Linked DNA regions of Homo sapiens: regions 1, 2, 3 and 4 are each linked to region 5. Evidence: fine-mapped expression QTL. A gene starts in region 5. Each other region holds a variant in brackets. All regions are shown on one strand. Distances are between the middles of the regions. Region 1 holds the start of MCEE (methylmalonyl-CoA epimerase). Region 2 has its middle 20 kb from the start of NAGK. Region 3 has its middle 12 kb from the start of FIGLA. Region 4 overlaps TGFA (transforming growth factor alpha). Region 5 holds the start of NAGK (N-acetylglucosamine kinase).

The links.
Region 1: its variant is fine-mapped to the expression of NAGK in tibial artery (GTEx, PIP above 0.99).
Region 2: its variant is fine-mapped to the expression of NAGK in whole blood (INTERVAL, PIP above 0.99). The same link has a PIP of 0.9 or more in monocytes after Pam3CSK4.
Region 3: its variant is fine-mapped to the expression of NAGK in left ventricle (GTEx, PIP 0.91).
Region 4: its variant is fine-mapped to the expression of NAGK in cerebral cortex (GTEx, PIP 0.99).

What each region holds. Positions count from the first base shown.
Region 1 is chr2:71,127,433-71,133,789 of GRCh38, forward strand. It overlaps MCEE (methylmalonyl-CoA epimerase), which reads right to left and starts at 2,797. Exons shown (of 3, transcript NM_032601.4): 1 at 2,748-2,797. The coding sequence starts at 2,787. It overlaps MPHOSPH10 (M-phase phosphoprotein 10), which reads left to right and starts at 3,202. Exons shown (of 11, transcript NM_005791.3): 1 at 3,202-3,322; 2 at 5,466-6,144. The coding sequence starts at 3,234. RefSeq lists enhancers at 2,020-2,878, 3,200-3,249, 3,350-3,399. The variant A/G (reference allele first, on the strand shown) is at 3,202.
Region 2 is chr2:71,045,225-71,051,581 of GRCh38, forward strand. It overlaps the pseudogene TRE-CTC15-1. Among named protein-coding and RNA genes, the nearest start is that of NAGK, 20 kb to the right of the region's middle. The variant C/T (reference allele first, on the strand shown) is at 3,044.
Region 3 is chr2:70,799,090-70,805,446 of GRCh38, forward strand. It overlaps the pseudogene HMGN2P21. Among named protein-coding and RNA genes, the nearest start is that of FIGLA, 12 kb to the left of the region's middle. RefSeq lists an enhancer at 997-1,551. The variant G/T (reference allele first, on the strand shown) is at 2,801.
Region 4 is chr2:70,518,414-70,523,413 of GRCh38, forward strand. The region is part of intron 1 of TGFA (transforming growth factor alpha); the gene reads right to left. Among named protein-coding and RNA genes, the nearest start is that of TGFA, 33 kb to the right of the region's middle. The variant G/A (reference allele first, on the strand shown) is at 2,789.
Region 5 is chr2:71,065,844-71,070,843 of GRCh38, forward strand. It overlaps NAGK (N-acetylglucosamine kinase), which reads left to right and starts at 2,805. Exons shown (of 10, transcript NM_017567.6): 1 at 2,805-2,869; 2 at 4,659-4,743; 3 at 4,898-4,996. The coding sequence starts at 2,841. RefSeq lists a silencer at 3,031-3,090.

The sequences.
Region 1 (6,357 bases), 62 kb after region 5:
ATTTGTATAAAAAGTACTATAAAAGTGAATAATCACTTGTAATAGGTTTTTTAACAGCTTTATCTCTTAATAGTTTTTAAACAGACTTAAAATTTATATACCATAAAGTTCACCCATTTGAAGTGTACAATTCATTTCTTTGCATCTTTGCAAAGTTGTGCGACCTTCACATAATCTAATTTTAGAACACGTAATAAGTTTGTTTGTTTTTTTGAAACGAGTCTGGCTCTGTAGCCCAGGCTGGAGTGCAATGGCGCAATCTTGGCTCAGTGCAACCTCTGCTTCCCAGGTTCAAGCAATTCTCCTGCCTCAGCCTCCGGAGTAGCCGGGATTACAGGAGCGCGCCACCACGCCCGGTTAATTTTTGTATTTTTAGTAGAGATGGGTTTTGCCATGTTGGCCAGGCTGGTCTTGAACTCCTGACCTCAGGTGATCCACCTTCCTCAGCCTCCCAAAGTGCTGGGATTACAGGCGTGAGTCACCGCGCCTGGCCGAACATAAGTCTGAATTTTCACTGAATATCTGGTTTGAGGAAACATACGTATTTAGAAAGTCATTCATTAGAAGTGCTTTCAAGTTAGTCTGGTAAGTTTTCTCTTAAACATTTGACCAGTTAATTTCACAGCACCATATATATATCTTCAACTTGTTTCAAACTATGATCAATTTTTTTTATTCATTACAGTAAGTAAACAGATTACATTTCTGTTAGCCCATTTACAGACGATTAATGAAAGTAAACCTATGCAGTCATGTAAGTTGGTCATTCTTGTCTCCCACCTAACAGGTTCAATTTCCATTTTCAGAACTTTTCTACGTGTTCACTCTGATTTTTCTGTGCTTTTGTTTTTCGGCGAAGTTTTATGTTCCTTAAAAGAGGGGCCATAACATAGAATTACCATGTAATCCAGCAATTCCACTTATGAGTATACACACCCCCAAAGAAGCGGGAATTCAGAAGTATTTGTACACCCACGTTCATAGCTGTATTACAATAGCCAAAAGGTGGGGATAACCCAAATGTCTATCAAGAGACGAATGGATAAACAAAATGTGGTATACACACACAATGGAATATTATTCAGTCTTAAAAAGCAATTTTTTTTTTTTTTCTGAGACGGAGTTTCGCTTTGGTTGCCCAGGCTGGAGTGCAGTGGCGCGATCTTGGCTCACGCCAACCTCCGCCTCCCGGGTTCAAGCGATTATCCTGCCTCAGCCTCCCGAGTACCCGGGATAACAGGCGTGTGCTACCACGCCCGGCTAATTTTTGTATTTTTAGTAGAGACGGGCTCACGCCTGTAATCCCAGCACTTTGGGAAGACGAGGTGGGCAGATCACCTGAGGCCAGGAGTTCCAAACCAGCCTGGCCAACATGGTGAAATCTCGTCTCCACTAAAAATGCAAAAAATTAGCCGGGCGTGGTGCCGGGTGCCTGTAATCCCAGCTACTCGGGAGGCTGAGGCGGAAGAATGGCTTGAACCTGGGAGGCAGAGGTTGCAGTGAGCTAACGCCACTGCACTCCAGCCTGGGCGACAGAGTGAGACTCTGTCTCAAAAAAAAAAAAAAAGGTAAATTTTACTTTATGTATATTCAACCACACACACACACACACAAGTGGAGACATTAAGCTTCAAGTATCTTAATAGGACAAATCAAAGGCAATCTTTGGAATACACTGTCTTCATTTTTCCTTTATGCCAAGATGTGTATGTAAGTACAAAACAAACATGCACCTTTATCTGTATTGAGTTCTTGCAGTATGTATATGACCTGTTGGAAGTCATACTTTTTCCCAAACTGTCAATCATTAAAGTGTGCAGTTCTAAAAATAGACATAAAAATGCCTTTTCCCAAATATTCATTTATTTATAGTTTTACGTTCCTATCTTGTGTATCACCTAAGAGGAAGGTATGCCTTACGGTTAAGAATGTGGGCTCTGGTGCTAGAAGGATTTATCACGAATGTCCCGGAGTAACTCTGGGGCATTACCACTTGGCACCTTCTTCCTAATAGGGAATCTCAGATTAAGGGAAATACTTGCCCTCTCATAAAAGGAGGAAGAGAAAAAAAAAAAGGATAAAAAGAGGAGAAAGTGAGTCAGAAAACGTGACAATTATTACAGTTATTTCTGTCATAACTGATTCTATGTACATATTTTAAAAAAAATGAAGGGGGAGAGAACTCAAGAAAGTTTCCAAATCCACATGCTTTTATCTGTGTACGCGATAAATATATTAGTGCACGTGGAAAAACCACTCCTTTTGTATTCTTTACACCACTGACCTTTGAGTGTTCCCAACAGAAAGCTGGTCACGCTTGGAGTTCGGCCGACTAGTAGTTGTTGTTTTTACGGAACGTGCTCTCCTTTCTGGTTTCTCCCCAGTCTCTTTATTGGTGCGCGGTAAAATAACTTACCGATCCGCTTCTATTTACTTCTGTCCCTGCCCTGCCTGACCTGCCGGGCAAGTTCCCTCGACTCTCCCGCCCACATACTGGAAGGTGCAGAGCCCAAGGCGCACAGCTCTCGGATGGAAATGGGACTCATGCACAAGGCAATCCCCGCTACTAAGCGGTGGCGCTTCTGGAAGGCACCCTCTGCCTAAGTGACAGCAGCTGCTGTGGAACGCGCCCCCGGGGGAGGACATTAGATCAAGGTGCTTTGGCCACGCCGAGGCCTCCTCCGCCCCCGACCGCCGTTCCCACGCTCCCTGTCCCATGGCGAAGGTCGCCGGTGCCCGGTATTCACCTACGGCATTCGCGGCTGCAGCCTTCAGCACCCGCGCCATTTTGGAAAGCAACCCGCCACGTCAAGACTAGCCACGGAGGTTGAGAGACGCGCGGCAGAGGGCGGGGCGGGAGGCAGAGGGGGCGGGGACAGAAAGGTCAGGGGCGTGGCGAAGGTCGCTGCTTTCCTGCTACAACGGGCCTACTTTAGCTAAAACAGAAACGTAAGGCCAGGACGGGTCACCCTTTGTGGGCCCCTGAAAAATACAAAACGAAGTTTGGAGAGAGTTGAAAGGCGTTTGGGCTGACCATGGAGATTTTTGTTTCCCACCCTCCTGCGAAAGCGCTCGCGCTGCCATTGGCTCTGGCTGAGGGCGAGTCCGGAACCTGTGCGCCGCGGAACTTTCGGCTCTGAAATCCAAGTTGCGCTGGGCGCATCTTTGCCGCGCGGTTTCCGGGCGGCTCCCTTCCCTTGC[A/G]TGCTGCATTGTGTCGGGAGTTGCTGACAGCCATGGCGCCGCAGGTCTGGCGTCGACGGACCCTGGAGCGGTGTCTGACGGAAGTCGGCAAAGCCACGGGTCGGCCCGAGTGCTTCCTCACGTAAGTGCGCAGATCCCGGGCTCGGGGTGCGACCGGGGTCTCACGTGGACGCGGGTTGCAGGCCTCCGGCAAATTGTGGAGCTGGGGGAAGGTAAGGGGAAACGTAAAATCGCTTTTCCCCAAATTTCAGAGTTTATGCTTTCCTAGGCTATCAAAATTTTAAAAACTGTTAAAATTTGTATAGATGGATCTCTCAGTTGAGTGTTACTGAAATCACTCTAACCTCAATTGTTAACACCTAGAAGCTTCCCTTGGGCTTCTTACGCCCCCATCCCTCTACACACAGACTGTTGGTTTCTCCTTCCTCCTATGTGCTCTCAAAGCACTTAGCGCTTAGCATACTTTATTGAAAGTACGAACTTGTCACTTGTCTGTCCACCCCCCATGACTAAGCTTCTTCAGAAATAGAACTTCCATGTCTCTTCCCAACACAAGCGTTTTATATGTATTTTGTTGAAGAATTTAAAATGTGATCTATGAAATTATTACTCATTTATGTTTCAAACCCCAACCTTTCCCTGAGTTCCCAGCTCACAGCAACTACAGACTGAGCTTAGTTTGAATTCCGTAGCACACAACTGGGATATCCACACTGTACAACTTTTAACGATTTTTAAAATTTTGGTACTGTCAAGCATCTCAAATTCACTGCGTCCAAAATAGAGCTGTTGTGTCTGTTTAATAGAATTGTTGTTTCTACCCACCTATACTCTGCCATCCCCTGAAGTCCTTTTCCCATGCTACACCTGTCAAGCGCGTCTGTGTGAAGAGACCACTAAAACAGGCTTTGTGTGAGCCACAAGGCTGTTTATTCACTTGGGTGCAAGTGGGCTGAGTCCGAAAAGAGAGTCAACTAATGGTGATGGGGAAGGGGTTGCTTTATAGGAGTTGGGTAGGTAATGGAAAATTACAGTAAAAGGTGGTTATCTATTAGCAGAGGAGGACGGGGTCACAAGGTACATGGTGGGGAGATCATAAGACTTATTGTCCAGAAGAAGAATGTCACAAGGTCGATTGATCAGTTAAGGTAGGGCAGGGACAAGTCACAATGGAGGAATGTTGTAATGTTGATTAATCAATTAAGGCAGGAACTGGCTGTTTTATTTCTTTTGTGGTTTTTCGGCTGCCCCAGACTTCTTGGCTCCTGCAGGCCATCTGGACATATATGTGCAGGTCACAGGGGTTACAATGGCTGAGCTTCAGCTCAGAGGCCTGACACCACCACCCAAGCCTTCCCTATCTCAGTAAATGGCACTTCTGTCTTTTCAGGTACTCAAACATAAAACTAGGCTGCTACTTTAATGTCTTCATTTTTCTCTATTCTATATCTAATTCTTTAGCAATCCTGTCAGTTCTACCTCCAAACTATACTCAGCATATTCACTGCTCTAACTCCAGTCTAAATCACCATTATCCTTTCGCTGGAATGCTGCATCAACCTTCTAATCACTGTACTTTCCTCCTCCTCCCTCGTCCCTTTCTCCTTCCTTCGTGTAAATCATCATTTCATCCCTCTGCTTAAAATGTTTTCTCTTTACACTTTAAATGACAAATTCTTACTCCTGAACCATGCATAATTTGGCTCCCATCAGTCTCTCCAGCTTCACCCTCTGCCTCCTTCACACTCTAGCCATGGTCACCTGTTTGTTTCCTCAAGCTCACCTCTAGAGGATTTGCATCTTAGAGGATTTCTTCTGCCTGGAATACATGTTTCCCAACCTTTATAAGACTATCTCCTTATCTGTAGGTTTCCTCTCAGATGTGACATCTAAGAGAGGTTTTCCTTGACCACTGTAGCCAAAGCAAATGTTGATCATTGAATGAATAAGTGAACAAATGAATGGAGTGGTATATAATGTAGCAGAATTGATAATTTAAGGTTAATTCACTATATATCTCCAAGCAAATAGATTTATAATGGTTTTCCTGCCTAAAATCTATACAGCCGATTCACAGATACTTGGTTGACAGGTTTTATATATCAGTGTAGCTCATCAGCTTATATGTTGTTGGGGGCCAGAATCTATACTTATACTTCATTCAAATTTTATTTTACAAAAGAGTTGGGTTTTTTTTATTTTTATTAAGAGTGCTGTGAAATTATTACCTGTAATTCTAAATCTCACTTAATTCCTCCCAATAGGATTCAAGAGGGATTGGCATCAAAGTTCACTTCTTTAACAAAAGTGCTTTATGACTTTAATAAAATATTAGAGAATGGTAGGATCCATGGAAGCCCCTTGCAAAAACTTGTGATAGAAAATTTTGATGATGAGCAGATTTGGCAACAACTGGAATTGCAAAATGAACCAATTTTACAATACTTTCAGAATGCAGTTAGTGAAACAATTAATGATGAAGATATCAGTCTTCTCCCAGAGAGTGAAGAACAGGAACGTGAAGAGGATGGTTCAGAGATAGAGGCTGATGACAAGGAGGACCTAGAAGATTTAGAGGAGGAGGAAGTGTCCGACATGGGTAATGATGATCCTGAAATGGGTGAGAGAGCTGAAAACTCAAGCAAATCTGATCTGAGGAAAAGCCCCGTTTTCAGTGATGAGGATTCTGACCTTGACTTTGATATCAGCAAATTGGAACAGCAGAGCAAGGTGCAAAACAAAGGACAGGGAAAACCAAGAGAAAAGTCCATAGTAGATGATAAATTCTTCAAACTCTCTGAAATGGAGGCCTATTTAGAAAACATAGAAAAAGAAGAGGAACGAAAAGATGATAATGATGAGGAGGAGGAAGATATTGATTTTTTTGAAGATATTGATTCTGATGAAGATGAAGGGGGACTGTTTGGAAGTAAAAAACTTAAGGTAAAGTTTTGAGAGAAGAGAGAGCACTTTCCTCCTCAAATTAGCTTTTCTTCTGTTTTTCTAGGAGAGATTTAATTGTAGTTAGAAGATTTAGTGATAAGAAATATTGTGCTCTATCTTATCAGTTATAAATGAATCTGTACTTCCATTCAATTTATGTTCCAGTTGGTCTTATAATTTTGTGGTAGTGTTATTAGTTGCCATTTTCACCTA
Region 2 (6,357 bases), 20 kb before region 5:
CTATTTAATAGTAATTATCATTATTATCGGTATTGATTTTTTAAATCATATTATCAGTTATTAATATTGATTATTATTATCAATTAATAATTGATATTATTAATTGTGATAAGTAATATTGCGACATTCCTCACAATATCGCAGAAAATGTACACCGCTCTGTGATGTTGTTCCTAATAGCCAGGGGTAGACAATGACATTACTCCAAATATCGCACTGGGTGTACATCCCTTCTGTGCTCTTGTTCCTAATATCCAGCTGGGGTATACACCACCTGCAATATTGGAAGTAATCGTATTTTCTGCCCCCCTCCCCCGGATATTAGAAACAATATCGCAGGGGGTGTGAAGAACCCCTGCGATATTTGGAGTAATATCGTCTCCCTTCATGAGTATTAAGAAGAATATCAAGGGGGGGTCGAGGGAACACACCCTTTGATATTTCATATCATCCTCTTCACCGGTGGATATTAGGAAAAATATGAGGAAGGGATGTACAGACCCTGAGACATTTGCTGTCCTATAACTGTCTCTCCCCTAGTAATTAGGAATAATGTAATGGGGGATGTGAACACCCCTGCGATATTGGGAGAAATATCATCCTCTCCCACCTTGGATATTAGGAACAATATCACAGGGTTGTGTACACCTCCTGCGTTATTGGGAGTAATATCATCCTCCCTCCCTCTGGATAGTAGGAAGAGTTTCACAGGGGTGTGTACACCCCCTGCGATAGTAGAAGTAATATCATCCTGTCGCCCTGAGGAGGGAAGCCACTTTTCTGACTGTCTCCTGTCTCTGAAAAGGAGAAGGAAGTAAAAGTTGAAAAAGAACAGGATGAAGTCAGTGTCAAGAGCAGTTGTTGCCACTGATGAGCTGGCCCGAGGTGAAAAGATGAACCCCCCCCCGCCCAACTCTAAGCACATGTGCTCTCAATCCATCACGATCCTTTCACGTGGAACCCCTTAGAGTTGTAAGCCCTGAAAAGGGCCAGGGAGTCTGTCTTCCTTCGGGGAGCTCGGCTCTTAAGACGCGAGTCTGCAGACGCTCCCGGTCGAAAAAGAATTCTCTTCCTTTTTAAATCCGGTGTCTGAGAGGTTTTGTCTTTGGCTCATCCAGAACGTTTACTTGGTTCACTCTGACCACGAGTCGAACCCAGGCCGCGGTGGATGAGAGCGCCGAATCCTAACCACTAGACCGCCAGGGGAACTTGGAACTCTGTGAGAGATAGATTGCCCAACTTTAATAGTGGGTTGGCCATCAGAAGGAAGCCTGGACAGGTCCCTTGTTTCTAAGGTGTGGCAAAAGGTGACTGGTAAAGGATACCTAGACCAGTTCCCATACATAGACACTTGGTGACAGCTGGTGCTAGACCCCCCACAGTGGCTAAGAGGCCAGGCAGCAGCAGTACTAGGAGCAAAGGGACAGATAGCTAAGGAAGGATCCGGCTCCACCCACCCAGGGAAATCAACTCCTGAAGTTCTATTCGACCCAACATCAGAAGATCCATTACAGGAGATGGCACCAGTGATCCCAGTGCTGCCTTCCCCTTACCAGGGAAAGAGGCTCCCCACTCTTGAGCCCACAGTGCTTGTGCCTCCCCAAGACAAGCATATCCCTAGGCCACCCAGAGCAGATAAGAGAGGAGGTGGAGACTCGGGAGAAACCCCTCCCTTGGCAGCTGGTTTATGACCCGAAACTGGGATACAAATGCCCCTGAGAGAGCAGCGGTATACTGGGATAGATGAGGATGGTCACTTGGTGGAGAGGCGTGTTTTTGTGTAGCAGCCCTTCACCTCTGACCACCTTCTCAACTGGAAAAACAATACCTTGTGCAATACCGAAAAGCCACAAGCTCTAATTGATTTGCTCCAAACTATTATCCAGACCCACAACCCCACCTGGGCTGATTGGCACCAGTTGCTCATGTTCCTCTTTAACAGAGATGAAAGGCGGAGAGTCCTCCAAGCAGCAACTAAGTGGCTAGAGGAACATGCACCAGCTGATTATCAAAAACCCCCCTAAGGACCCAGTTACCAGGAACCGAACCCCAGTGGGACCCAAATGAAAGAGAGGCTATGCAAAGGCTAAACCGCTAAACTGAGACAGGGAAGCTCTCTTGGAAGGATTAAAGAGGGGAGCACAGAAGGCCACAAACGTTAACAAGGTCTCTGAGGTCATTCAGGGAAAAGAAGAAAGTCCAGCACAATTCTACGAGACACCGTGTGAGGCCTATTGTATGTATACTCCCTTTGATCCTGATAGTCTTGAAAATCAGCGCATGATTCACATGGCTTTAGTCAGTCAAAGCGCAGAAGACATTGGAAGAAAACTGCAGAAACAGGCTGGGTTTGCAGGGATGAATACATCACAATTATTAGAAATAGCCAACCAGGTGTTTGTAAACAGGGCTGCAGTAAGCCTTGAGGAAAACCGCAAAGAGAATGGACATCAGGCCCGGCGAAACACCGACCTGGTTGTCAGCTGCAGCAATCAGAGGGGTCCTCCGAAGGAGGCAAGGGAAGGGGGGGCCCTGGGAATGAAACTCAGCTTGGCTGTCAGAGTTTGCAGTGTAACCAGTGTGCTTCTTGTAAAGAAATAGGACACTGGAAGAACAAATGCCCTCAGCTCAAAAGAAAACAAGGTGACTCAGAGCAGGAGGCCCCGGACAAGGAGGAAGGGGCCCTGCTCAACCTGGCAGAAGGGTTATTGGACTGAGGGAGACCAGGCTCAAGTGTCCCCAAAGAGCCTATGGTCAGAATGACAGTCGGGGGTAGAGACATTGATTTTCTTGTAGGTAGCGGTGCTGAACATTCGCTAGTAACCGCCCTGGTCGGCCCCTTATCCAAAAAGACTATTGATATCATCGGAGCCATGGGGGTTTCAGCAAAGCAAGCTTTCTGCTGGCCTCAGACTTGTACTGTAGGAGGACATAAAGTGATTCATCAGTTTTTGTACATGCCTGACTGTCCCTTGCCCTTGTTGGGAAGGGACTTGCTCAGCAAGCTGAGAGCAACTGTCTTTGCTGCTAAAATTCCCCAGAA[C/T]GGGAGTCATTATGACCCTTACCATCCCCGGAGAGGAGGAATGGAGACTTTTTTTTAACTGAGCCGGGCGGAGAGATAAGATCACCTCTGGCTAAGTGGTGGCGAAGAGTACGGGCAGAAGACAACCCTCCAGGGTTGGCAGTCAACCAAGCCCCCATACTCATACAAGTTAAGCCTGGGGCCCAGCTGGTTAGGCAAAACCAGGACCCGGTCCCCAGAGAAGCTCTTCAAGGTATCGAGGGCCATCTCAAGCACCTAAGAACTTTGGGAATTACAATTCCTTGTCAGTCTCCTTGCTGGAGCGTGTTGCTCCCATACGTTCATGACCTTTTGCTGGGACACCCCATGGCAGTCGGGTGCGCCAAGGGAACGGATGCCCTACTCTGGCACCTGGAGGACTGTGGGTATAAGGTGTCCAAGAAAAAAGCTCAGATCTGCTGATAGCAGGTACCTTACTTGGGATTTAGTATCCGACAGGGGGAACGCGGCCTGGAATCAGAAAGAAAGCAGGTCATTTGCAATCTACCAGAGCCTAAGAGCAGAAGGCAGGTGAGAGAATTCTTACGAGCTGTGGGGTTTCATAGACTGTGGATCCCAAACTTTGCAGTATTAGCCAAGCCTTTGTATGACCTCACAAAGTTTGGGGGTGGGGGGACAGGGAAACTTTTGAATGCGGATCCCAACAACAGCAAGCCTTTCATGAGTTAAAGGAAAAACTTATGTCAGCCCCAGCCCTGGGGCTACCCGATCTGACAAAGCCTTTTACATTGTATGTGTCAGAAAGAGAAAAGATGGCAGTTGGAGTTTTAAGCCAAACTGTGGGGCCCTGGCCGAGGCCGGTGGCCTACCTCTCTAAACAACTAGATGGAGTTTCTAAAGGATGGCCCCCCTGTTTGAGGGCCTTGGCAGCAACTGCCCTGCTAGTCCAAGAAGCAAATAAGCTGACTTTTGGGCAAAACCTGAACATAAAGGCCCCCCATGTTGGGGTGACTTTAATGAACACTAAAGGACATCATTGGCTAATGAATGCTAGACTCATCAAGTACCAAAGTGTGCTCTGTGAAAATCCCCGTATAACCACTGAAGTTTGTAACACCCTAAACCCTGCCACCTTGCTCCCGGTATCAGAGCGGCCTGTCAAGCGTGATTGTGTAGAAGTGTTGGATTCAGTTGACTCTAGCAGACCTGACCTTCGGGACCAGCCTTGGGCATCAGTAGACTGGGAACTATACGTGGACAGGAGCAGCTTCATCAACCCACAAGGAGAGAGATGTGCAGGATATACAGTGATGCAGTAGTAGCCCTGGATACTGTTGTTGAAGCCAGATCATTGCCCCAGGCCACTTCAGCCCAGAAAACTGAACTCATTGCTTTAATTGGGGCCTTAGAACTCAGTGAAGGTGAGACTGTCAACATTGACACTGATTCTCGGTATGCCTTTTTAACCCTTCAAGTGCGTAGAGGATTATAGAAAGAAAAGGGCCTACTGAACTCTGGGGGGAAAGACATAAAATATCAACAAGAAATCTTGCAATTATTAGAAGCAGTATGGAAACCCCACAAGGTGGCACTTAGGCATCAGCAAGCTTCCACCTTGCTGGGTTTGGGGAATTCCCACGCTGACTCAGAGGCTCAAAAAGCAGCATCTGTCCCCTTCCAGGCATCAGTCACAGCCCCTCTGCTCCCTCAAACACCTGATCTTGTACCTACTTCTTCTAAAGAAGAAAAGGACTTTCTCCAGGTAAAGGGGAGGACAAGTGACAGAGGAAGGATGGATTCAGTTACCAGATGGGAGAGTAGCTGTGCCACAGCTCCTAGGAGGTGCAGTTGTACTGGCTGTGCATGAAACCATCCATCTAGGTCAGGAGTCACTGGAAAAGTTGTTAGGCCGGTATTTCTACATCTCGCATTTGTCAGCCCTCGCCAAAACCATGAGGCAGCGGTTTGTTACCTGCCGACACCATAATGCGAGGCAAGGTCCAGCTGTTCCGCCCGGCATACAAGCTTATGCAGCAGCCCCCATTGAAGATCTGCAGGTAGACTTCAGAGAGATGCCAAAGTGTGGAGGTAACAAGTATTTACTAGTTCTTGGGTGTACCTAGTCTGGGTGGGTGGAGGCTTATCCAACATGAACTGAGAAAGCTCGTGAAGTAACCCATCTGCTTCTTCGAGATCTTATTCCTAGGTTTGAACTGCCCTTATGGGTAGGCTCAGATAACGGGCCAGTGTTTGTGGCTGACTTGGTACAGAAGACGGCAAAGGTATTGGGGATCACACGGAAACTGCATGCCGCCTCCCAGCCTCAGAGTTCCGGAAAGGTGGAGCGGATGAATCGGACTATCAAAAATAGTGCTATACTATTGTCTTCCCCGCTGGATATTTAAAACAGCACCACAAGGGGCATCAAACCACCTGCTAAATTTGAGGGAATGTTATCCTCTCCCCACCTCCCCCGGCCCCGGATATTAGAGACAATAACACAGGGGTAATGTACACCCACTGCTTTATTGGGAGTAATATCATCCTCTCCCTTCTTGGATATTAGGAACAATATCACACTGTGCATGTACGCCTGTCGTGAAATTCAATGGAATGTCATCCTTTGCCTCCCTGGATATGATGAACAATATCACGGGGGATGTACAACTTGTGAGATATTGGGAGTGATATCATCCTCTCCCGTCTGGAAGTTAGGGACAGTATCACAGGGGTGGTGTACACCCTCTGGGATGTTGGGACTAATATCATCCTCCCGCCCACTGGATATGAAAAACCATATCACAAGGGGCTTGTACACACACTTCGATATTGGTATTAATACCATCCTCTCCCTCTTTGGATATTCGGTGCCATATTTCAGGTGGGGTATACACCACCTGCAATATTGGAAGTAATAAGATTTTCTCCCCCCCGGATATCAGAGACAATATCACAGGGGGTGTCAACAGCCCCTGCGATATTTGGAGTAATATCATCGTCTCCCCTCATGAATATTAAGAACAACATCGTAGGGGTGGGGGGTGTACACCCCCTTTCATATTTGATATCATCCTCTTCCCCCCTGGATATTAGGAACAATATCAGGAAGGGATGTGCAGACCCTGCAATATTTGCCGTCATATAATTGTCTCTCCCCTAGATATTAGGAAAAATGTAACTGGGGATGTGACCAGCCCTGCGATATTGGGAGTAGTATCATCCTCTCCCCGTTGCATATTAGGAACAGTATCACAGGTGGGGTGTAGTGTCTCTGCGATATTGGGAGTAAAATTATCCTCTCTTCCCCTGGATATTAGGAAGGGTATCAGAGGGGG
Region 3 (6,357 bases), 270 kb before region 5:
TGCACCTGCAGGCTCAACACCACGTGGAAACTGCCAAGGCTTGGGGCTTGCACCCTCTGAAGCCACTGCAAAGCTCTATGTTGGCCTCTTTCAGCCATGGCTGGAGCAGCTGAGACGCAGGGCACCAAGTCCCTAGGCTGCATACAGTACAGGTACTCAGGGCCCTGCCCAAAAAACCATTTTTTCCTGCTAGATCTCTGGGTCTGTAATGGGAGAGGCTGCCACAAAGGTCTCTGACATGCCCTGGTGACACTTTCCCCATTGTCTTGGGGATTAACATTTGGCTCCTCATTACTCATGAAAATATCTGCAGCTAGCTCAAATTTCTCCTCAGGAAATGGGATTTTCTCTTCTATTGCATTGTCAGGCTGCAAATTTTCCAAACTTTTATGCTCTGCTTCCCTTTCAAAACTGAATGCCTTTAGCAGCATCCAAGTCACCTCTTGAATGCCTTGCTGCTTAGAAATGTCTTCCACCAGATACCCTAAATCATCTCTCTCAAGTTCCAAGTTCCACAAATTTCTAGGGCAGGGGCAAAATACCAGTAGTCTCTTTGCTAAAACATAAAAAGAGTCACCTTTGCTCCAGTTCCCAAGAAGTTCCTCATCTCCATCTGAGACCATCTCAGCCTGGATTTCATTGTCTATATCATTATCAGTATTTTTGTCAAAGCCATTCAACAAGTCTCTAGGAAGTTGGAAACTTTCCCACATTTTCCTGTCTTCTTCTGAGCCCTCAAAGCTGTTCCAATCTCTGCCTGTTAGCTAGTTACAAAGTCGCTTCCACATTTTCAGGTATCTTTTCAGCAACACCTCACTCCTGGTACCAATTTACTATGTTAGTCCCTTTTCATGCTGCTGATAAAGACGCACCCAGGACTGGGAAGTAAAAGAGGTTTCATTGAACTTACAGTTCCACATGGCTGGGGAGGCCTCAGAATCATGGTGGGAGATGAAAGGCATTTCTTACATGGCAGCAGCAAGAGAAAATGAAGAGATGCAAAAGTGGAAACCTCTGATAAAACCATCAGATCTCATGAGACTTATTCACCACCAAGAGAACAGTATGATGCAAATTATCTCCCACCGGGTCCCTCCCACAACAGGTGGGAATTATGGGAATACAATTCAAGATGAGATTTGGGTGGAGACACAGAGACAAACCACATCATCATCCAAACTCTCTGGGCTTTATCTCCCCATTTGTAAAGTGAGGGTTCTAATAGAGCCTTCCTCAGAAGTGAAGTGAGGAGTGAAGTAGGCCATCAGCAAAACAATCACGACTAATGCTTGCACAGTGGGATCCGTGTCCCATGCACTATCCTAAATTCGTCCTATGCATTGACTTTCCTAATTGTCACAGCACCCCCACGAAGGAGGTACTGTAGTTACTTCCATTTCACAGAAGAGGAAACTGAAACATGAAAGTCAATGAACCAGCTTTCCCAGCTAGAAAGGAATGAAAATGGGATCGGACCCAGAGTGTTTGGCCTCAGGGCCTGGGTCTATAACCTCCAAGCTCTCCTGCCTCCCATAACCCCCACCATGTTGTTAGTTAATGGTAGCATGATTTATGAACCAAATAGAAAGTCCAGAAATGTGGTTATCATACAGACAAATCCTAAGTGACCCAGGCTAAGGGGTGGTCAGAGCACCAATGCAGAAGCTACAATCAGAGCTGGTTGAGGAGACACTAAGGGGCTTGGCTCAGTTCCAGTGACCCCATGGCAGAAGTGTGATGAAAAGCTCATTGGGGTCATCTTGAAGAGGGCCTGGGATCCCAGTCCTGGCACCTGTATGGTGGAGAGTGGAAAATGCTTGTCAGGTCTAAGAAGTCAAAGATTGCAACAAAAGCAGGGCTTTGGGGAGATTCAAGAGGCAGTGAGATGCAGCTGCTTTGGGGAGTGAGGCAGGGTTGCACTATGGACAGCCTGCTGCTTGGGGCCCTGTCCTGCAGGAAGAAGCCAGATGGCATGGACCCTCTGGCTATCCTAAAGCACATGGACCCTCGTGCCTCCCAAGAGAAGCCAAGGCATCCTTACTCTTCCGTGACTCTCATTGGGGCCTGGGACTCTCACTGGGGATGGGGAGGTCCTTGGAGTTGGTTGCCTAAGCTGCAGCAGGAATTGCTGGCTGGCAAGGTGGAAAAATTTATAACTGGCTCTTATAAGTGAGAACAATACACAAAAGAGAGGGTCCTTCTGAGAGGCATGGTGGAGGCACACAGGAAGGGTTGGTCCCAGGCCCAAATTCATGTGTCAGAGCAGTGAATGCTGTGTGTATCTAGTGCATGAAAAGGGCTGGGCATTTGTTGGTAGACATCAAAATTACTGACTAAGCAAGTGTAGATTTTCCTCTAAACCAGTGACATCCCTCATCCTCAAAATGCTGTTACATCTTCCTCCAGAATGTGAGAAACTTCTCCCTGCCCCTGGAAAACCAGGTCTGAGAGTCATTTCGTAACAACTGTAATGTCTATAGCTTCTCCTACTTATGCTAGAGTCAGGCTGTCCCCTAAAGCACAATGAGTGGGACCCCAGACTCCACGGTGAGCCTCATGCCCGGAAAGACTAAAAATCTCTGGGAGAGAAGGCTGTGGGCACCTGAGTGTCAACATCATACCCTGTGTGGTGGCAGTTGTCTGTCACAGCCTGCTAGTGCCACCAAAACAACCCAAGGTCACAGAGAGTGGCAGCTGTACAGAGTTCCCACAGTGGAGGCAGGGCGGGCAGGCCCTCCAGTGAGACAAGCCGGCCACGTCCCCCAGGTCACCCGACAACTGCACTCTGTCTCCCCAGATG[G/T]TTCCAGTCAGTCTATGGAGAACTTCATTCCTCTGCCTCTCTCTTGAGGAAACTGCAGCTTTCGGAACCTCCCCTGAAGGAGAGAAGGGGGCAGCGGGGACATGAGAATTGACCCTGAGGAGTTGGCAGGAGGGAGTCCTTCCTGTTTACCCGCCCCAGTCCAGCCACTTCTTTGTTACCTTTAGACGGCAGGGCAAGGTTGGCTGGATTGATTATGACAGCTCCTTGCTGCTCCACACCATCACCTCTCCACAGGACTCCTTCCTGGGGTTGTGAGAAGGGGCTGAATGTACTAACTACCTCTGCTCCCTGCTAGAATGCTAGCCTCATGAGGGCTGGGATTTTTGTCTGTTTGGTTCACTGTTGAACCCCTAAAATCTAGAAGAGTGCTTGGTACATAGTAGAGGTGCAATGAACATTCCTTGAAGGAATAATTATTGATATAAAGTAAAATTCCCGAAGTAGATTTCATAGTTAATTGATCTTGGTGGCTGGGCTTGTAATCCCTGCACTTTGGGAGGCTGAGGTGTGCAGCTCACTTGAGGTCAGGAGTTCGAGACCAGCCTGGCCAACATGGAGAAACCTTGTCTCTACTAAAAATGCAAAAATTAGCCAGGCATAGTACATGCCTGTAATCCCAGCTATTCAGGAGGCTGAGGCAGGAGAATCGCTTGAACCCAGGAGGCAGAGATTGCAGTGAGCCGAGATCATACCACTGCACTCCAGCCTGGGTGACAGAGAAAGACTCCATCTCAAAAACAAACAAACAAACAAACAAAACAACAACAACAAAACAATAGTTATTGGATCTTGGGCCAGGCACAGGGACTCATGCCTGTAATCCCAGCATTTTGGGAGGCCAAGGCAAGAGGATTGCTTGAGCCCAGGAGTTTGAGACCAGCCTAGGCAACATGGTGAGACCTCATCTCTACAAAAAATAAATAAAATTAGCCAGGTGTGGTGGCATGCGCCTGTGGTCCTAGCAACTTGGGAGGCTGAGGTGGGAGGATCACCTAGACTGAGAGGTCAAGGCTGCAGTGAGTCAAGATCTCACCACTGCACTCCAACCTGGTTGACAGAGCAAGACCCAGTCTCAAAAAACAGTGGGGGTTGGTTGGGTGGAGTTAGTTATGAATCTTTAGACATTAAACAAAGTAACTGAAATGGAAGAAGAAGAGGCGAGAATGACCCCCCGACCGATCAAAGCCTGTGCGCCGCTGCATCCCGGGCCCAGCATCTAAGTCCCACTGCTGTCACCGCCGCCACCTTGCCCAAGAGGAAGACCGAAGGGGATGTTAAAGGAGATAAAGCCAAGGTGGACACACCTCAGAGAAGATCCACAAGGTTGTCTGCTAAACCTGCTCCTCCAAAGCCAGAGCCCAAGCCTAAAAAGGCCCCTGCAAAGAAGGGAGAGAAGGTACCTAAAGGGAAAAAGGGAAAAGCTGATGCTGGCAAGGAGGGGAATTACCCTGCAGAAAAAGGAGATGCCATAACAGACCAGGCCAGGGAAGCTGAAGGTGATGGAGAGGCCAAGTGAAGTGTGTGCATTTTTGATAACTGTGTACTTCTGGTGACTGTACAGTTTGAAATACTATTTTTTATCAAGTTTTATAAAAATGCAGAATTTTGTTTTACTTTGTTTTTTAAAGCTATTATGTTGTTAGCACACAGAACACTTCGTTGTTTTTTCTGGGGGAAGGGCTATATGTCACTAATAGAATGTCTCCAAAGCTGGAGTGATGTGAGGAAAACACCTTTCCCTTCTAGTTTTGGGAGACTTCCTCTTGGCTCCCGGGAGGAGGGATTCCCTGACTTTGATACACATGAGTACCTTGGCACTAAAGCTTTGTGTTTGGAAAAAGCAATTCATTTTTATGTCCTCTTCTCCCTTTCTATCTTTCAGCATAGACTTAACTCTCTTAAGCCCAGACATCTGTTGGGACCTCATCCCCAGTCATTGGTTACCAGTGTGTCAGGCAATCTGGACTTTCCAGTGGTGCCACTGAGATGGCACCTGTCTAAAGAGCAGTGGTTCCGTTCCTAGACTGTGGATCTTCAGATACATTCTGCCATTTTCATTTCACTTCCTGAAAGTCAGGGTCACCTCGTGAAAAGTTGTTAAACAACATGCTAAATGTGAAATGTCAACCCTCACTCTAAACTTCCCCTGTTCAGAGCATCAGATGAAGACTTCATTGGGTTTTATAGTGGCTTTCTGATTTTTGGCAGTCCACTGAAGAAGGGAGTTTGAAAGTTGTTGCATACTGTTAACAATTGTCTTCCATGTCCTGCCTGAAATACCATGATTGTTTATGGAAAGTATCTTTAATAAAGCTGGATACAGTTCGGCTTGGAAAAAAATGTAACTGAAATATATATATAATATATATATAATATATAGGTATATAAATAAAGGCTCTTAAAAATAAGAGGAAAATGTGACAAAATGATAAACATCATGAGAGAGTTTTAAAAAATCCTCTCAGAGAAACTGATTGATTGAGTAGACAAAACATAAATGAGAATGTAAAATGTTTGCATAATGAAAATTATAAGCTTAATCTAATAAATACACCTATAGAACATTTATAAAGAGTGAGCATATACTAGGCCACAAAGAGAATCTCAGGAAATTCCAAAAAAGTAGGCCATGTTATTTTTATTATTATTATTATATTTTATTATACTTTAAGTTCTAGGGTACATGTGCACAACATGCAGTTTTGTTACATAGCTATACATGTGCCATGTTGGTTTGCTGCACCCATCAACTTGTCATTTACATTAGGTATTTCTCCTAATGCTATCCGTCCCCCAGCTCCCCACCCCCCAACAGGCCCTGGTGTGTGATGTTCCCGCCCTGTGTCCATGTGTTCTCATTGTTCAACTCCCATCTATGAGTGAGAACATGCGGTGTTTGGTATTCTGTCTTTGGGTTAGTTTGCTTAGAATGAAGAATTCCAGCTTCATCCATGTCCCTGCAAAGGACATAAACTTATCCTTTTTTATGGCTGTATAGTATTCCATGGTATATATGTGCCACATTTTCTTTTTTTTTTTCAAAAGCGTTCTCACTCTGTCGCCCAGGCTGGAGTGCAGTGGCGCGATCTCGGCTCATTGCAAGCTCCGCCTCCCGGGTTCACGCCATTCTCCTGCCTCAGCCTCCTGAGTAGCTGGGACTACAGGCGCCCGCCACCACGCCCGGCTAAATTTTTTGTATTTTTTTTAGTAGAGACGGAGTTTAACCGTGTTAGCCAGGATGATCTCGATCTCCTGACCTCGTGATCCACCCGCGTCAGCCTCCCAAACTGCTGGGATTGAGGCGTGAGCCACTGCGCCTGGCCATGCCACATTTTCTTAATAAAGTCTATCATTGATGGACATTTGGGTTGGTTCCAAGTCTTTGCTATTGTGAGTAGTGAAAGTAGGCCATGTTACTTAATACTGCTTCCTGATGACACAAAGCTAGGAAAACCCTAAAATGAAGAATAGAAAAACATACAAAGAAAAATATATATACATACAAACATTTGTATGTATAATTGACCCATGAGCAA
Region 4 (5,000 bases), 550 kb before region 5:
GGACAAGTGTTGCCATGCTTATCGTTCAGCTGTTTGGTACTCAGGTAAATGTTCCCAACAGAAACAAGGTAAAAAGGAGGCTCACCCATTTAGCTCATGAGTCCCCAGAAGTGGAGCCATCCCAAAACCTATGTGCTGATGTGTCAATGGGAAATGCTCTTAAGAGAGGCTGGACACCCCTCTCCCCTGGGCCCCAGAGCAGGATACCCCCACTCCAACTCCTCAATCAGGCATGGGACTAGCAATTCTGCACAGATACCCAGGCTGTGCCTTCAGCGTCAGACACCCTTCATCATCAACCACCCATTGGCCTGGTGACCACCTCTTCTGTGGACACTCAGCTATAGTGCCTGGAGCTGGGAGGAGCATCCTCTGGCCCCTGACCACCTCAGCAGAGTGGACCATGTCCTGCTCTGGCCTCTGCTGGGGCTGGGGTTTGCTTTCAGGCCCCTATGTACTCCACTGCATGGATCAGTTGCTCCCTCTAGAATATCAAGAGCTCTACCTTTCACCTGTTTGGGATCCTCTAAGCCAGACTTCCTGCATGAAGGGATGAAGGGTAAGTTTTTGTTTTCAGGGGGATGTGGGAGGATGAAGAGGCTGCAGCAGGTCCTTTTGGATGAAGGATGTTCTGGATTCAGACGAGGTGGTGAGGAAAGGCCTTTGGATGAAGAACACGCTCAGGGCGGGAGGATAGGAATTGTGCTAGAGGGCAGGGCAGAAGGGAGTGTGGGTATTCAGAGGGCAGCAGGTTTCCCCCTTCCTCCCCTACCATTCTTAGACCTGGCAGGTCCTAAGGAACAGGAAGTAGTTAGTGGTACGTAGACGGTGGGAATCCTGCTGCTCAGGGAGAGGTCTGCAAAGGCTCCCATGTAGGCATAAATATATAAAGAAATGGGCCACACAGAACCCAGGGCCAGATAGTATAGGTTCATGGCATCTTCCCTTATGAATTATATCCCAACATTCAAATTTTATTTGCAAGCATGGCAGGATTTTAACTGCGTAGCAAAAATCACTAAATTGTATGATTTCATCAATATTTTTAAATCCAAGAGGTTGACAGCCAGGTGAGGATGCTGGCTTCAGGGTAAGAACTGATTAAGAAGGAAAAAGGGAAGGCCCTGCAGAGGAGGACTATGAGCAAGGCTGGTAGGATGAGCGTACCATGGACTATCCATAAACTCATTGGGATATTAAGGTCAAAAGTAGCCATGTGGCATCTCCATTGGACAGCAGCAAGTTCCAACTAGAAAAATCTCGGGAAATACTTCATGATTATGACATCACAGGAAATGATCCAGCATTACCTGAAAGCTCATAGGAATTTTCCATATCCATCTAAACATATCTGACAATAGCAAAAAACAAAGTATTCAGAATGAATCTTCAGGATCAGGGAGGCAAGAGAGATGGGCAGATGGGTGCCTGCACCACAACCCCCTACCACTTTCTAGCCTGTCACAGCACAGCAGAAAGGGGCTTTGCCATCAGGCCTGGGTGCAAATCCTGGCTCTGCCACTCCTTCACTGTGAGATCTTGGCTCTATTATGTACCCTTGCTAAGGCTTGGTGTGCTCATCCATAAAACAAGGATAACAGCCCTTCATGGGACTTGCAAGGATTAAGTGAAACAAAATGAAATAGAGTACATGAGGTCCATAAGTCACCATGAGCACCCACTGAACACAGCACTTGATGGGGCTTCATGTTGGTCCTGTTTCATCATAACTTCCAGGAAGTTCAGGATGATGAGGAGGTGGTCATGACCCTCCTCCCTTTGGAAATCACTAAGGGAACTTCAACGAAGGGTTTTACTTGAGGCCCCGGGGTCGCCCAGCTGCAGGCTACTGATGTTCCATGGACTGATCTTGAAATAGCATGCCTTTTACGCCTTTTGAGGGTTTAAATAGTCAAAATTGTGAAACCCGGACTCCACTAAAAATACAAAAATCAGCTGGGTGTGGTGGTGGGCATCTGTAATACCAGCTACTTGGGAGGCAGAGGAGGAGAATTGTTTGAACCTGGGAGGCGGAGATTGCAGGGAGCCAAGATTGTGCCACTGCACTCCAGCCTGGGTGACAGAGCGAGACTCCCACTCCAAAAAAAAAAAATTGTTATTTACTTATGTTAACTAATCAAATATTTATTTAGCACCTACATACTGTGAGCAAATTAAGTAAAAAAAGAGAAATCTGAGACCTTTGACTTTCCCTTAAAATGTTCAAGTCACGTGGGACAGCAACTACCCGAGAAAAATGGAATCCTCCCTACTTCAACAAAGGCAGACAAGTGTAGGCTGTTGAAGTTATCACTACAGCCCACCAAGGCACCGGACCGACCCTATATTCCCATAGATGCTTCCCCTGCTTCCATGCCCAAACACTATCTCCAACCTCCACCACTCTCCACAAGGCCTGTACCCCAGATCATGTGTTCAAAATTGAACTCATGTCTTCCACCTCTTCCTTGGTTCTGGGCGGGACTGATAACTAGGCAGTCATTGTCAGCCCTTCCCTCTCCTTCACCCAGTATCCAAGCCAAGCCCTCCTACACACCCAGCCTCCACACCGTCCATCCTATCCATCCCCCTGCATCCCTGCTGTTACTGCCCCAATTCAGGCCCTATCATCTCTCCCTGTGCTATCAAAATAGTTGTTAGACTGGTTTTCTTGCCAACAGCTTAAAAAAAAAAATCTTTGCTCCTACTACTAGACTGACCTTGCTGAATGAAATCACTCCTATCCTCTAAGCTCTCCATGGGCTCTGTACCACTCACAGAACCCAGC[G/A]CAGAGACAGAACCCAGCCCCAAGTCCTGAGTAGAGATTTAGCATGCATAACCTGATCCTAGACCTCGTTTCCACCTAAACTCCACCCATTCCCTCCTGTCAGGTCCTCTGACCCCAGCTGCCCAGCACTGCCCCTTTTCCCTGCACAAAAATTGGCACTCCCAACTTGGTGCCTTGGGTTCATGCTACTAGGATCCTCACCCAACTTCTTATGGCTGCTGACTTTAGTTTAGTTGCCTGAGCCTCAGTTTCCTTCACTGTAAAAGCAGATAAAGATATCCAACTCTTGCACAGGGTTGTTTAGAGATTAAACGAGAGACACATGAGAAAAATGTGGTATATTGAGTGACACACAATAAACATGCAACAAATGGTAGCTGCTACTATTGATAGTTTTTTTTGTTGTTGTTTGTTTGTTTTTTTTTTTTTTTTTTTTTGAGTCTCGCTCTGTCTCCTAGGCTGGAGTGCAGTGGCACGATCTTGGCTCACTGCAACCTCTGCCTTCCGAATTCAAGCGATTCTTCTGCCTCCGCCTCCCGAGTAGCTGGGACCACAGGCACGCGCCACCATGCCTGGCTAATTTTTGTAGTTTTAGTAGAGACGGGGTTTCACCATATTGGCCAGGCTGGTCTTGAACTCCTGACTTCATGATTCACCTGCCTTGGCCTCCCAAAGTGCTGGGATTACAGGCGCAGGCCACCGTACCGAACCTATTGACAGTTTTCATTCACATCATGCTGATCTCTCAAGTCGGCATATCCCATCCTCTACCCATGGGAATCAAATTGGCCTCTCAAAGCCTTGCTCAAATGTCAGAAATAATCATTTCTTCCTCAGAGGAATCCTTACTTTATTCTGCCTTGCAGTTCAGAAGTTTTTACATCTTACCTGTCTCTCCTCTCTAGTGCGGTCAGGAGCTGTGGCTAAATCATCTCTATCCTTACACCTGGCCTAACGCACCTACATAGGATTTTAATACATTTATGTTGAACTGAATTTCTCTAAGAGGTCACCAGCTTGAAAACAGAGTTAAAGTCTCATCAAAGACTTGGACTAGGGGCTGGGTAGTGAGTAGTGAGGGTGTACAGATGGGGAATGGGAAAACCTGCAGATCCTCGGGAATTCCTTTACTTCTAGTCTAGATCCCTGCCGCTACAGCTCTAGGTCTTGGTTCTTACTCTAATTTCAGTGGAGATGAGGAGCACTTGAATTTTTATTTCCAACTTTTATTTTTTATTTATTTACTTTTTTATGATGGAGTCTTACTCTGTTGCCCAGGCTGGAGTACAGTGGCATGATCTCAGCTCACTGCAACCTCCACCTCCCAGGTTCAAGCAATTCTCCTGCCTCAGCCTCCTGAATAGCTGGGATACAGGTGTGTGTCATCACACCCGGCTAATTTTTTATATTTTTGGTACAGACGAGGTTTCACCATGTTGGCCAGGCTGGTCTTAAACTCCCGACCTTAAGTGATCCACCTGCCTCGACCTCCCAAAGTGCTGGGATCACAGCCAACTTTTATTTTAAGTTCAGGGGTACACGTGCAGGATGTGCAGGTTTGTTACTTAAGTAGACGTGGGCCATGGTGGTTTGCTGCACAGAGCACTTGAATCCTGACATTCATTCATTCAACAAGTGCTCACTGAGCACCTGCTGCACCATTAGCGGGACATTGTCTAGGTGCTGGGCAGAGAGCAATGAATGAAAAGTCCCTTCCTATGAGAAAGGATCCTTCCAATTCTCAAAAGCCATTGAACTCCATTATAAATAGCTGTACCATTGTTCAGTTGGGTGGTAAGTTAAATCTGTGTTTTTCTATTTAAATGATATTAAATATTCCCACTACAATATTGAAAAATCCATGAGGAATGAAGGAACTGTCATCCTTATCCAAAGCCCGGATTTAAGTCTGCTGAAGTGGCCTGTCAAGTGGATCCTGCATTGTTTGGTCACCCGATGAGATGACCCCTGAAATATTTTATTTTCCTACCCTTAACTCATTTTGTTGGCTTTTCCTGAAACTTTTATAAGAACACAAAGACTTCCATCCAGTGACCCCAAAGAGGCCTGGCCATATCCCAAGGAGGCTAAGACAGAGGAGTGAACGCTCATTGTGAACGTTCGTTGTGAATGTTGTGTCCCAGGGCTCTTCAAGCAAAGGCAAGACTTGCCACAAGGAGTTTACAATCCAGATGATTGAAGCAAACACACT
Region 5 (5,000 bases):
AATCTGTCATTCTCATAAGGTTGTTAGGATGATCAAACAAGATAAAGGTACATAAAAGAGCTCTATAGAATTATAATGTACAAGGCCGGGCACAGTGGCTCATGCCTGTAATCCCAGCACTTTGGGAGGCCGAGGTACGCGGATCAAAAGGTCAGGAGATCGAGATCATCCTGGCTAACACGGTGAAACCCCGTATCTACTAAAAATACAAAAAATTAGCCAGGCGTAGCAGCGTGCACCTGTAGTCCCAGCTGCTGGGGAGGCTGAGGCAAGAGAATGGCGTGAACCCGGGAAGCGGAGCTTGCAGTGAGCTGAGATCACGCCACACTGTACTCCAGCCTGGGCGACAGAGCAAGACTCTGTCTCAAAACAAACAAACAAACAAACAAACAAAAAGAATTATAATGTACAACATAAACGTATTTTATTTATTCTTTTTTTTTTTTTTTTTTTGAGACGGAGTTTCACTCTTGTCACCCAAGCTGGAGTGCAATGGCACAATCTTGGCTCACCACAACCTCCACCTCCTGGGTTCAAGTGATTCTCCTGCCTCAGCCTCCCAAGTAGCTGGGATTACAGGCGCCTGTCACCACGCCCAACTAACTTTTGTATTTTTAGTAGAGACAGGGTCTCGCCCTGTTGGCCAGGCTGGTCTTGAACTCCTGATCTTGGGTGATCCACCCCCTCGGCCTCCCAAAGTGCTGGGATTACAGGAATGAGCCACCACGCCCGGCTACTTTCTTCTTTAAATCAATTATATGGCCATTATTTATTTCATAAATAGGCATTCAGTGACTTTGAAATATTATGGTCCAGATAGAGACAACAGGGTTGTACAACAGAAATATGTAGGTCAAAATTTTAAATATTCTAGTAGTGACACTAAAAAATATAATAGATTGGCAAAATTTAGTAATCTATAATCTTGATCTACTACATCCAGAATGTTATTTCAACATGTGATTCATATAATAGTGACTAATGAGGTATCTTACACTCTTTTTTTGTAGTAAGTCTTTGAAATCCTGTGTGTATTCTACATTGACGGGACATCTCATTTTGGACTAACCACATTTCAAGTGCTCAGTATTCACATATGGATACTGTGCAGGACAGCACACACTAATTGGTAATGTAAATACAAGTTAGTTAAGATCTGTGAAGTACTTTATGGTTTCCAAAACTCTTTTGGCATTTAAATCTTGCGTCAGCCCCAGCAGGTAGATGTTTATCATTTCCATTTTGTAGAGGAGAGGCTGCAGCAATTACCTGTAAGTCACCCAAGCTCATCCAGCTAGTAAATGGTGAACTCAATTCTTGTCTTAAACCTGGGCACTTTCCCTTTTGCTTGCTTGCCTAAACAAGCAATACAAAGACAAACTTAATATTTATACACATACGTCCCATGGCTCATTGCAGTAGTACAGGACAGAAACAATTATTTCAAAATCCACCTACAATCTAGTCTCCAAAAATCCTGCCCAGTTTAATTGCACCACAATCTACTAACTGTAATTCTAAAAATGTGTATGTTGGATAATCTTCCAGCTCTAAAGTGCTGTGAATTAAAAAAATGCCATAGGCAGGCATAAAAAAATCCTACCCTCTATTATATTCTCCATCTGATATAGAATATATGATATATATTCTATAAATGAATACATGATACAGAGTCTATCATGTAGTGATTTACTTTTTACTTTTGTGAATTACAACGTGGTAGGGTAGGAAATGAGAAAGCTTAAAAAGCCTAATTTTCTCACTAAAGCATAACCAGACACAGCAGCCTATTAGGGGTTTCTCCAGAAGATGGCAGGCAGTCAAGGGGGACAGAGTTCGACCCGCGACAGGCCAACTGATTTCCCCAAAAAGATGCCAAGGGCAGCTAACCGCCCTCCTGGCCCGCGAAGCTGCTCCTTGAGGGCCCAAAACTTCCCGGAGGAGCCAGAGGAGGCCCTCAGGAGCCACAGCTCTCCCTGACTTGGCCTGTATTTGCACCCCTAGGGATCCCATTCCCTTTCCCGACGCAGCGCAAGGAAGGGGAGCGGAATGGGGGCTGAAAGGCAATAAAAAACTTGTAAAGCCGTATCTGCTAGTTCTCCCAGTGGGCTATGTCCCTGCAAATATCCTCCACAAGAAGTAAACTGGGTGGGTAGGAAGAGGTGAAGGCTCCCTCCTCAGGGCTGCCGGGACCGCCTCGAGGGCTTGTCTGTTTAGGTCCCAATTCCTCCCGGATCCGTACATTCACACGAGCGCAGGGCAACAATCTGAGCGAGTGTTCGTGTGTGCCCGTGTGACTCGCCATCGCGTGGCAGATGTTCAGTAGAACATTACAGTAATTTCTGTTACAGGTCCATGGGCGCAGGTCCCTGAGCCCACAGCTTCGCGGGGGTCTGGCCGAGCATGCGTCACAACCTACGCGGCCAAGAGCAGTGCGCACGCGCAACCTAACGCGGGACTGCCAGCAACTTCCGGGCGTTTACAGGCAGGCAGGTCAGTGATGTGTCCTAAGGGTCCGACCGACCTAGATACCCCTCTTTGATTCCTCCTCTTGGGATTAGTGTCCATCTCTGGAAGCAGGATCCAGGAGGACGGGAGGGGCCGCTGCGGACCGCAGTCGCTCCACCTGGAGGAGACACCAGAAGGAAGACAGCCTGAGGGACGCAGCCATCCCCGGCTCCTACCGGCGCCCCGCCCCGCGCATGCGCACGCGCACAGGGAGTCAGCTGGCTGCGCGGGAGGTCACGGGAAGTGGGGCGGTGCCCAGACAGCTGGAGGGAAGGAGGTGTCAGGCGGGGAGAGACGCAAACGGCGGGACCAGCAGCGACGGTAGCAGCAGCATGGCCGCGATCTATGGGGGTGTAGAGGGGTGAGTGCGGCCCGGCGGAGGGAGCCTGGGCCCGAAGGCGGGGCGGAAGGCCGTGGCCAGCCTGGCAAGCTGGTGGCCTTGATCCTCGGCGTCCGGGCACTTTGGGCGGCGGGACCTTGCGGTGAAGAGGTGTGTGCACGCGCAGGGGCGCCCTGGAGCGCACAGCTGTATGCCTTACGGGGACTCTGCCTGTGCAACAGCCACACCCCGGGTTGGGGATCCTTTGTGTTTCTTGGCGGAACCACGCCCCTTTCTTCCACGAAACACCCACTCCGCTGTCTTCAGCTGGAGAAGCAGCTCCTTTTTCCTATTCCTGACCTCGGACAGAGTTTTGCAGAACAGGTGTCAGGTGTGAAATTGCTGAGCGCGGGCAGGGTGGGGAGTGGGAGTGGGGAGAAGCGGGACAAAGATCTTGGCTGAGGTTATCCGGGAGCTGGAGCAGCTGCGAGCCAGAGTACTAGGTTGTCCTGATGTCTGAAAACCGCTCCATCCCTGTTGGCCTTCCATGCTGCTTTCACTAGATTGCATTTTTCTGCTCAGAAGCTTGTTTACTGAACTTTTTGTAATAGCTCTGCCCCTGGGTATGACCATGGACAAGATATTTACCCTCCCTGGGCTACAGTTACCGTATGTGCAAAGTGAGGATAGGGATAAATAAGATCGCTATGTCCCTGCCAGTGGCAACATTCTGTGAATCTGAGTTTGTCAAATCAGGGAATAATGGGGGTCGCTGGCCTCTCAGCCAGGGCACTGTACTTTCGAATCTGTGATTGTTTTCACTTCTCTGGCAGCCACACCCCACTGCTGATTCACAGACCCCAAAGTCTTTTCACATGAATTGTTAGGAATGATCTTTCCCATCCTGTATTTGTAGCACTTAAAAAAAACAGTATAGGAGTCTGCATTCATCCTTGTTATAGTCATCTGTAAGATATGACCCGTTTCTTCCAGTTCGTCAAGACATGCTTTTGGATGTGGAATCTGCCACCTCATGTATTAACTACCCCCTTGAAATTTCATGTCCTCTTTGAGTTTGATGAGCGGTCTTCAGTGTCTTCTTCTGCCATTCCTAAAAGTAATGATCAATAAAGAAACATATATCCCATCACCACAGATCTCCCTGTGAACTACTGTGACCCCCAGTAATCAACATTTGAAGGTTTAGTTGCTTAAGTATGTATGAAGTCACCCTGCCATCTGGTCAGCATTTCTAGCAAAGGTGTCTTGAAGACCTTGGCAGCTGGATCTTGAAATGCAGTCTTTAGCTATTGTGAGGGAAGCAGAGAGATGTGCCATTTTTCTTAGGAGTGTTTGCTGAGCATTGCCTGTGCCAGCTCCTGTGCTCGTTCTGAGAGGGTAAGTAAGTGATCAGGAGCTTGACCCAGTGGAGCTTGAAGTCTAGTGAGAGGCGGACACAAAGCGTCTGAACACACACTTCATACAGAGGAGACTTTAATAACTTTGGAGGCACTATGAAGGTTTAACTAACGGAGACTTAACTAATTCGTTGGGGTGGGCCACACCTCAGAAAAGGTTTCGAGGACTAGGTGAAGCGTAAGTAGAGTCTTGCAGGATAAGGAGGACATCCCCAAGGGAAGAGGAGTGAGAATTATGTTTCAGTTAAAGAGCACTCAAACACTGAACCACAGAGGCGGGTTTGGGAGTGGTGATTGAGTTTGTCGAAGCTGTCTCCTCCATCATACTGGGCTCTGCCAGTGTGGACAGCACAAGCTTAGCTCTCTCTGTGGGTTTTTCCGAGCAAGATCAAGTGCCCTCTTGTGTTCTGTAGGGGAGGCACACGATCCGAGGTCCTTTTAGTCTCAGAGGATGGGAAGATCCTGGCAGAAGCAGATGGACTGAGCACAAACCACTGGGTAAAAACCACACTGAGGGGATCAGAGGGCTTGGTTCTGATTTTATTCTCTGTAATTCCTGTTGAGGTGGTGGCTGGGACTCACAGAGCAGCCTGTGGGGGCAACATAGCTTCTGTAAGCCTTTGTAACTCCTTCTTCCCTTGATTGGGGCCAGCTGATCGGGACAGACAAGTGTGTGGAGAGGATCAATGAGATGGTGAACAGGGCCAAACGGAAAGCAGGGGTGGATCCTCTGGTACCGCTGCGAAGCTTGGTGA